2 linked regions of the Homo sapiens genome follow. The protein of the gene in region 2 interacts with the protein of the main gene of each other region in a pairwise test. Each region holds a gene or a part of one and is shown on either strand. Other genes may lie near its edges. The genes, in order: C17orf75 and BCAT1.

What was found.
Region 1: the proteins of BCAT1 (region 2) and C17orf75 interact in a two-hybrid assay, tested with the Homo sapiens proteins (one large-scale study listed by BioGRID).

What each region holds. Positions count from the first base shown.
Region 1 is NC_000017.11:32,331,993-32,335,814, reverse strand, and holds part of C17orf75 (protein Njmu-R1), read left to right. Parts: intron 1-372; coding exon 373-492; intron 493-975; coding exon 976-1,040; intron 1,041-1,209; coding exon 1,210-1,346; intron 1,347-2,294; coding exon 2,295-2,398; intron 2,399-3,822. UniProt on the Homo sapiens protein: As component of the WDR11 complex acts together with TBC1D23 to facilitate the golgin-mediated capture of vesicles generated using AP-1. May have a role in spermatogenesis.
Region 2 is NC_000012.12:24,879,397-24,883,218, forward strand, and holds part of BCAT1 (branched-chain-amino-acid aminotransferase, cytosolic), read right to left. Parts: intron 2,016-3,822; coding exon 1,905-2,015; intron 1-1,904.

The sequences.
Region 1 (3,822 bases), on a different chromosome or scaffold from region 2:
AGGTGCCAGGGAAATGAGGATTATTGAGTGAGTATCTCCATTGAGTGCACAGTACAGTGGGAGGAGAGGGACTTGTGAGTGCCCAACTCTTCCCTGTGAAGAAATAGCATGGAACCCTATTCAGTCTCTTCATTTTATAGAATGCATTTCTTGGTGTGTTTTAAATAAATTCAGTACAGATTTAACCCTCACCCTGCCCAACAAGCCAGGAAAGGTATATCACAATTTCTTTTTTTGAATTGGTGGTGTTAGCTTTAAAAAGGGAGGTGTCTATCCTGGTCTTTTTCACCATCAAGGATATGATGAAGAAAATATGAAGTCCACTAAAGGAAAGGCTTATATTAAAGCAAATGATGTTCTTTCTTGATTTAGGCAAGGGGCCTGGAGAGTCACATAAAATCCTATCTGAGCAGCTGGTTTGAGGATGTTGTATGCCCAATCCAAAGGGTTGTTCTTCTCTTTCAGGAAAAGCTTACCTTTCTGCTACATGCTGTAAGTACTGCCAAATGAGAGCATTTCCTTAACTGAGAATCACTTTGGATGATTTAGAAACATACTCATTTTCTCTGAACATGACTCCCATCCCTCCCCAAATATTCAAACTATGCTTGCTATCAAGATAGACCACACTTTATTTTCTCAGATCTAGAAAGTGATATTACTAAGGTAGAGTTGAATTTCAAATGCTGAGTCTTCCTAATAGGATAAAACATTTTAAAATAATTACTTTTCCAAGTGATCTGGGAAAGGTATAGTTTCCAAAACAATTTGAAAAGGAAAACAAAAATCCAGAGCAATTTTGATTCTATAAAATGTTAATGAGCAGTGGCTGAACAAGGCTCTGGAGAGCTTGTGACCAGTGCCCATCAATTGTTGTCCAGTGTGGTAGGGACTTATGGGGACATTTAGTCATGAGTAGCTGCTCAAGAAAAACTGGAATATATGTACCAATCAGGCTTTATTTTTCTCTCATAGGCTTTGAGTTACACTCCTGTTGAAGTTAAAGAATCAGATGAAAAAACAAAGAGAGACATTAACAGGTAAAGAACAGTTTTTTCAAAGAGAAAAGCTTTTCCACAGCAAGATTGACATCTGTGTTTGTAAACTGCTCCTTCCATCCCTTCCCCACCAGCCCAGTGCAAAATAAATTTGTTTTCATCCTTCCGTCCTGCAATATTGTTTGTGGAAATGGACTTGTGTGTGTGGCAGGTTTCTGAGTGTGGCCAGTCTTCAAGGACTTATTCATGAAGGCACCATGACTTCTTTGTGCATGGCCATGACAGAGGAGCAGCATAAGTCTGTGGTCATCGATTGCAGCAGCTCCCAGCCTCAGTTCTGCAATGCAGGTGAGCTACAACCTCTGAAGCAGCCTTCCTACATCTCTTGCGAGTCCCCATCTTTGCACTGAGAGCCTATGATACAACCTTATTCTTCCTGCCTTGTGCAGTTTTACATGGTTATCTCAAACCATGAGAAACCACTTGGTGAAAACAATATAATTCTAGAAACATGGAAATCATGCCATGCCTAGCAATTCCACACCTAGGTACATAAAGAAATTCTAGTATGTGTACACAAGGAGATGAATTTTAAAATGTCCATAAAGGCATTACTTGAAAAAGCAAGGAATTGGAAGCAATTTAAGTGTTTATCAACAAGAAAACTGATAAGCTGCTATATTCATGCAATGGAATATAACAGAGCAGTGAAAAAGAATGAACTAGAGCTACTTGTGTCAATATAGCTCTCAAACATACTATTTAGTGAAATAGCCATAAAAGAAAAAATACATAAAAGTTTTAACATATGCAGAATAATGTAGATAAGGCTTACACGTGCAAAGGTATATGGGAAAAGTTTAAAGACGTCTGTGGGAATGATTATCCTCTCTGATGGGAAAGGAAGGGGGATGTGATTGGGAAGGGGCATACAGGGGGCTTCAGCCATTTTGGTATTCCTTAGCCATGTGGTGAGCACACTGTTTTTTTAGGCCATTATACATGTCTTAAATAATTCATTATAGGTGTTTTTATAAAGAAATAAATGGGTCAGGCGCAGTGGCTCACACATGTAATCCCAGCACTTTGGGAGGCTGAGGCAGGTGGATCATCTGAGGTCAGGAGTTTGAGACCAGCCTGGCCAATATGGTGAAACCCCATCTCTACTAACGATATAGTTAGTACTCCGGCTGCACTCCAGCCGGGCAACAAGAGCGAATCTCCCGTCTCAAATAAATAAATAAATAAAGCTTTGTAAAATTTCATTTTATTTAGTCTCTCTGAAATGTTTTATAGGAAGTAACCGGTTTTGTGAGGATTGGATGCAAGCTTTTTTAAATGGTGCCAAAGGAGGTAACCCTTTTCTTTTCCGACAAGTACTGGAGAACTTTAAACTAAAGGTAATTAGTTGGCTGTGTGCCAAGTGCCACATGAAATTTTTGTCTGAATTTTAATTAGTACCAGTGACAGAGTAACAAATTGCTTTATAGCTGTGATGTCTGTTAATTAGGATGTTCTCAAAACTGGAATTATCAGAAGACATTTACTTTATTTTTTGGCAGCTTCTGTATACATATCATTTCTAATAAATTGGGTTGAATGCTTGCTTATATTTAAGGAACATCAGTCTTACAATTTGTGACTTAACTTAGTTGGAAAGCACAAAAAAACTGGTTCAGTGGCTAAGTTTTCAAAATTCTGATGGGGGCTGGGCGCAGTGGCTCACCCCTGTAATCCCAGCACTTTGGGAGACCATGGCAGGTGGATTGCTTGAGGCCAGGAGTTCAAGACCAGCCTGGCCAACATGGCAAAACCCTTTCTCTACTAAAATTATAAAAATTAGCTGGGCCTGGTGGCGCATGCCTGTAATCCTGGCTATGTCAGGTGGCTGAGGCACGAAAATTGCTTGAACCCAGGAGGCAGAGGTTGCAGTGAGCCCAGATTGTGCCACTGCACTCCGACCTAGGTGACAGAGTGAGACTCTGTCTAAAAAAAAAAAATTCTGATGGGGACGTGTTGTCACCTTATTTAGTTTTGTTTGTTTGTTTTAAGAGACAGAATCTTACTCTGTCACTCAGGCTAGAGTGCAGTGGTGCAATCATGGCTTACTGCAGCCTTAACCTCCTGGGTTCAAGCAGTCTTCCTGTCTCAGCCTCCTGAGTAGCTGGAACTACAGGTGTGCACCACCACACTCAGCTAATTATTTTTATTTTTTGTAGAGACGGGGTCTTGCTGTGTTGCCCAGGCTAGTCTCAAACTACCGGCCCTTAGGCAATCCTTTTGCCTGGGGCTCCCAAAGTGTTGGGATTACAGACATGAGCCACCATGCTAGGTAGATTATTTTAAAGTATTTTTATTTTGTATAAGAGATTTTTGGCTGCGCGTGGTGGCTCACGCCTGTAATTCCAACACTTTGGGAGGCTGAGGCGGGTGGATCACTTGAGGTCAGAAGTTCGAGACCAGCCTGACCAACATGGTGAAACCCCGTCTCTACTGAAAATACAAAATTAGCCTGGTGTGGTGGCACACACCTGTAGTCCCAGGTACTTGGGAGGCTGAGGCAGGAGAATCACTTGAACCCAGGAGGCAGAGTTTGTGGTGAACCGAGATCAAGCCATTGCGCTTCAGCCTGGGCAACAAGAGCGAAACAAGAAAAAAAAGGAGATTTTCTTCTTCTACCAAGGGCAAAGCATACTGCAATTTAAATTTTGGAAATATTTAATATGAAAAGCAAACAATTCAGGAAGATATGTTGAGTTCTCAGCTGGATAGGAGTTATTTTTTGAGCTTCATTATTATTTCACTTAACACATTTTTAACTGGG
Region 2 (3,822 bases):
ACTAGATGGGTGATACTTCATAAAATAATTTAGTCTCTGCTCACTTGCAAAGTAGAGAAACATACTTTCAGAGATGTGATGGGTCACCTAAGGTAGAAATGAGTCAGTCATAAGCATCTGAGTAAAGCTCATGAAGTCAGAATTTGTCTATTTAAATATTGACCTGTAACAGCAATAATAATGTAGTAATGTTATAGAAATTGGGACTGCCAATCATATAGGTGAACCCTGTAGCACCTGCCTCAGCCCCTGGTATTGCTGTCTAGAGACAGAATTCAGTGAGAAGAGAACTTGACCAGGAATAAAAACACCTGGATCTAATTTCTTGCCCTGTCCTTTTGCTCTTTGTGACTTCAGACAAGTCATTTAATCTCTCTGGACTCAAGTTTTCTTCTCTGTACAAAGGCACTAATAAACTGTACAACAAATAATCTTCTTAGCAACGCCTTACTGCTGTGATTACACAGATAAGGAATGTGAAACTACATAACACAGTTTGGTAGCAAAATTGATGTCTAACAAATATTACTTCCCTTTCCTTCCAGCCCCATTTTAAAGACTTTTCCCCAGTGATCTAGCTGTAATGAGAAGAAGAGCGAAACTATGCCCTAGTCCAAAGAATTTACCTTAATTTCCCCTCTGCTACTATATTATGGCCTCCAAAGGAGATGGGTGAAATGCGGGTTACAAAAATAGGCAGAGGAATGAAGAACACTTGGATTTAGCCGTCCTCAGGCTTCCTGAATGCATAGGTTGGGCTAAATCCCTGAAGCTGGGCACGGTGGCTCATGCCTGTAATCCCAGAACTTTGGGAGGCTGAGGCAGGCAGATCACTTGAGGCCAGAAGTTCAAGTCCAGCCTGGCTAACATGGTGAAATCATGTCTCCACTAAAAATAATTTTTAAAAAAATTAAGCTGGGCATGGCTGCGTGCACTTGTAATCCCAGATACTAAGGAGGCTGAGGCACAAGAATCACTTGAACCCCGGAGGTGGAGGTTGTAGTGAGCCAAGATTGTGCCACTGCACTATAGCTTGGGTGACAGAGTGAGACTCTCTCTCAAAAAAAAAATCTAACCCATCTTACAATGATTTCTGCTCCATAAGAAACATTGTGACAGCCACGATTCAATGGCCATGAGAAACCATTTTGATATCTTTTTATCTCAAAACATTACTTAAGATAAAATATCAAAATAATTAAGTTACTATATCTTGCTAGCATCTAAAGCAATTAGGCAAAATATCCGCAAAATACCTGTGCTGCACACCATATTTTCCATTTTCAATATTAATTTCATGTGGTCTTCAAATATTATTTTAGGTTGAGATACATTTTTCTTCCTTACTCTTTCATCTCTCACTTGCATATGAATCCCCCACAGACACTGATTTTAAAAAATTGTGGAATTGCCAAATGATATTATTTTCTTGGGTTTTTTGTTTTTTGTTTTTTTTTTTTACAGAGTCTCACTTTGCGGCTTAGGCTGGAGGGCAGTGATGTGATTATCTTGGCTCACTGCAGCCTCCACCTGCCAGGTTCAAGCAATTCTCATGCCTCAGCCACACCGATGGGACCACAGGCATGTGCCACCAAACCCGGCTAATTTTTGTATTTTTTGCAGAGATGGTGTTTCACCATGTTGGCCAGGCTTGTCTCCAATTCCTGGTTTCAAGTGATCCACCCACCTCAGTCTCCCAGAGTGCTGGGATTATAGGAGTGAACCACCGTGCCCGGCCATTTTCTTGTATTTTTACCTAACTAAAGTAGATCAGAAATAATGTTAATGTTCATATGGTTTGTACTGAATATTTATCTAACTATTCAGAAATTATTTATTTGGTGGTCAACACCGTGACCCGTTACATTAAAAGAAACACAAAAGAAACTCCTACACTTACATACCGGCAGAGTTGCCCTCACAGCAGAGCGATACATTCTATCCATGTTGAGGTTTGGCTGAAACAGTCGAATTTTATTATCTACTCCTCGAAATGCCTTCAATCCTTCAAATAACTGGAGATCAAAGAGAAAAAATCTTAGAGGGTAACCAAAAGAAAACAACCCGTGTTCAAGAGACTGACTTTCCTATGGGCGTTCATCTTATTCATCCCATAAAGCTGTTGACATTGACCTCAACTTGAGATCATTAAATCCAGGAAAGCTAACAGTTGACAGGACTGGTAAAAACAATGGTTGAGGTGGAGGAAAGTTATTTTATTATCAGAATTTGGTAGGAATTCCGAGTTCTCCTCTGCTTAGCAGGAGCCACACTGCTGAATAACACATTTAGGTGTTATTTAAGGGAGCAGGAAGAAAACATCTAGAATCACACAGCACAGGTTAATTCCCTAGGCAATGGAGATCGAAACCAAAGGCCTTGTGGCACCGTGGCCCCCAAAGAGTACCCCCATATCCTTTCATGTAATCTGGTTCATTTGAATGCTGGATAGTAGATAATCCAGATGTGACCAGAGCTGGTTCAGTCCCTAAATCACAGAAACCAGGCAGCTCAAGACCATACTATGTTAAGCCACGTCACCTCCCTCAATCAAAGTGCTGTCCTGAACAAACCACTGATCAGGGATTTGAAAAGACTTCAGTAGATACATACTGATAAATACAGAGAAAGACAAAAATCAATAATTTTAGTGGGAAAATTTAACACAGCTTCTCTAAGTAATTTATAGAACAAACAGGCTAAACCTTAGTAAAGATATGCAAGATATGAACAACAGGAAGAACAAACTTCCCTAACTGATACAGAGAACTCTTACACAGACCAGCTGTAGAATTCACATATTTTCCAAACACAAGATAAGCCAGAAATCAATACCAAAAGTTTGACTGGACACCATCCATATTTTGGAAAATAAATCCACCACTAACTAAACCATAGGTCACAGAAGAAAAATGGAAATTAGAAAATAAGTTAAACTGAACGATAATGAAAAGTAAGGCCTTTAAAGATGTATACCCTAAAAACTTACATGGGAAAAAAAGAAATACAAATCATGTATAATTAAAAAGCATAAAATTAGATGTTGTATTTAAGTGCAAATATATTATTAGTTTATTAAATATAACAGTACTAAAGCTTCGGTTAAAATATAAGTTTGTTAGATTGGACTCAGCTGACAATATCTGAATCAAAAAGACAGAAAAAGATATATCATGCAAATACTTTATTTTTTATTATTTATTTTTTTTTTTTGAGACAGAGTTGTTTTTCTCTGTCACCCAGGCTGAATGAAGTTCAGTGGCAAGATCTTGGCTCACTGCAACCTCTACCCCCTGGGTTCAAGCAATCCTCCCACCTCAGCCTCCAGAGTAGCTGGGACTACAGGCGCGCACCACCACGCCCAAGTTAATTTTTTGTATTTTTTGTAGAGACGAGGTTTTGCCATGTTGCCTAGGCTGGTCTCGAACTCCTGGGCTCAAGTGATGTGCCTGCCTCGGCCTCCCAAAGTGCTGGGATTACAGGCATGAGCCACTGCACCTGGCCTGCAAATACTTTCTAAAATAAAACTGGCAAGCTTCCATTACTATTTATAAAACAAAAGAATTTAAGCCAAGAAGCACTACTGAAGATAAAAAAGGCAACTTCAAGGCTGGGTGTGATGGCTCACGTCTGTAATCCCAACACGTTGGGAGGCCAAGGCTGTTGGATCACTTGAGGTCAGGAGTTCGAGACCAGCCTGGACAACATGGTGAAACCCATCTCTACCAAAAATATAAAAATGAGCCAGGCATGGTAGCATGTGCCTGTAGTCCCAGCTACTTGGGAGGCTGAGCCAGGAGAATTGCTTAAACCCAGGAGGCG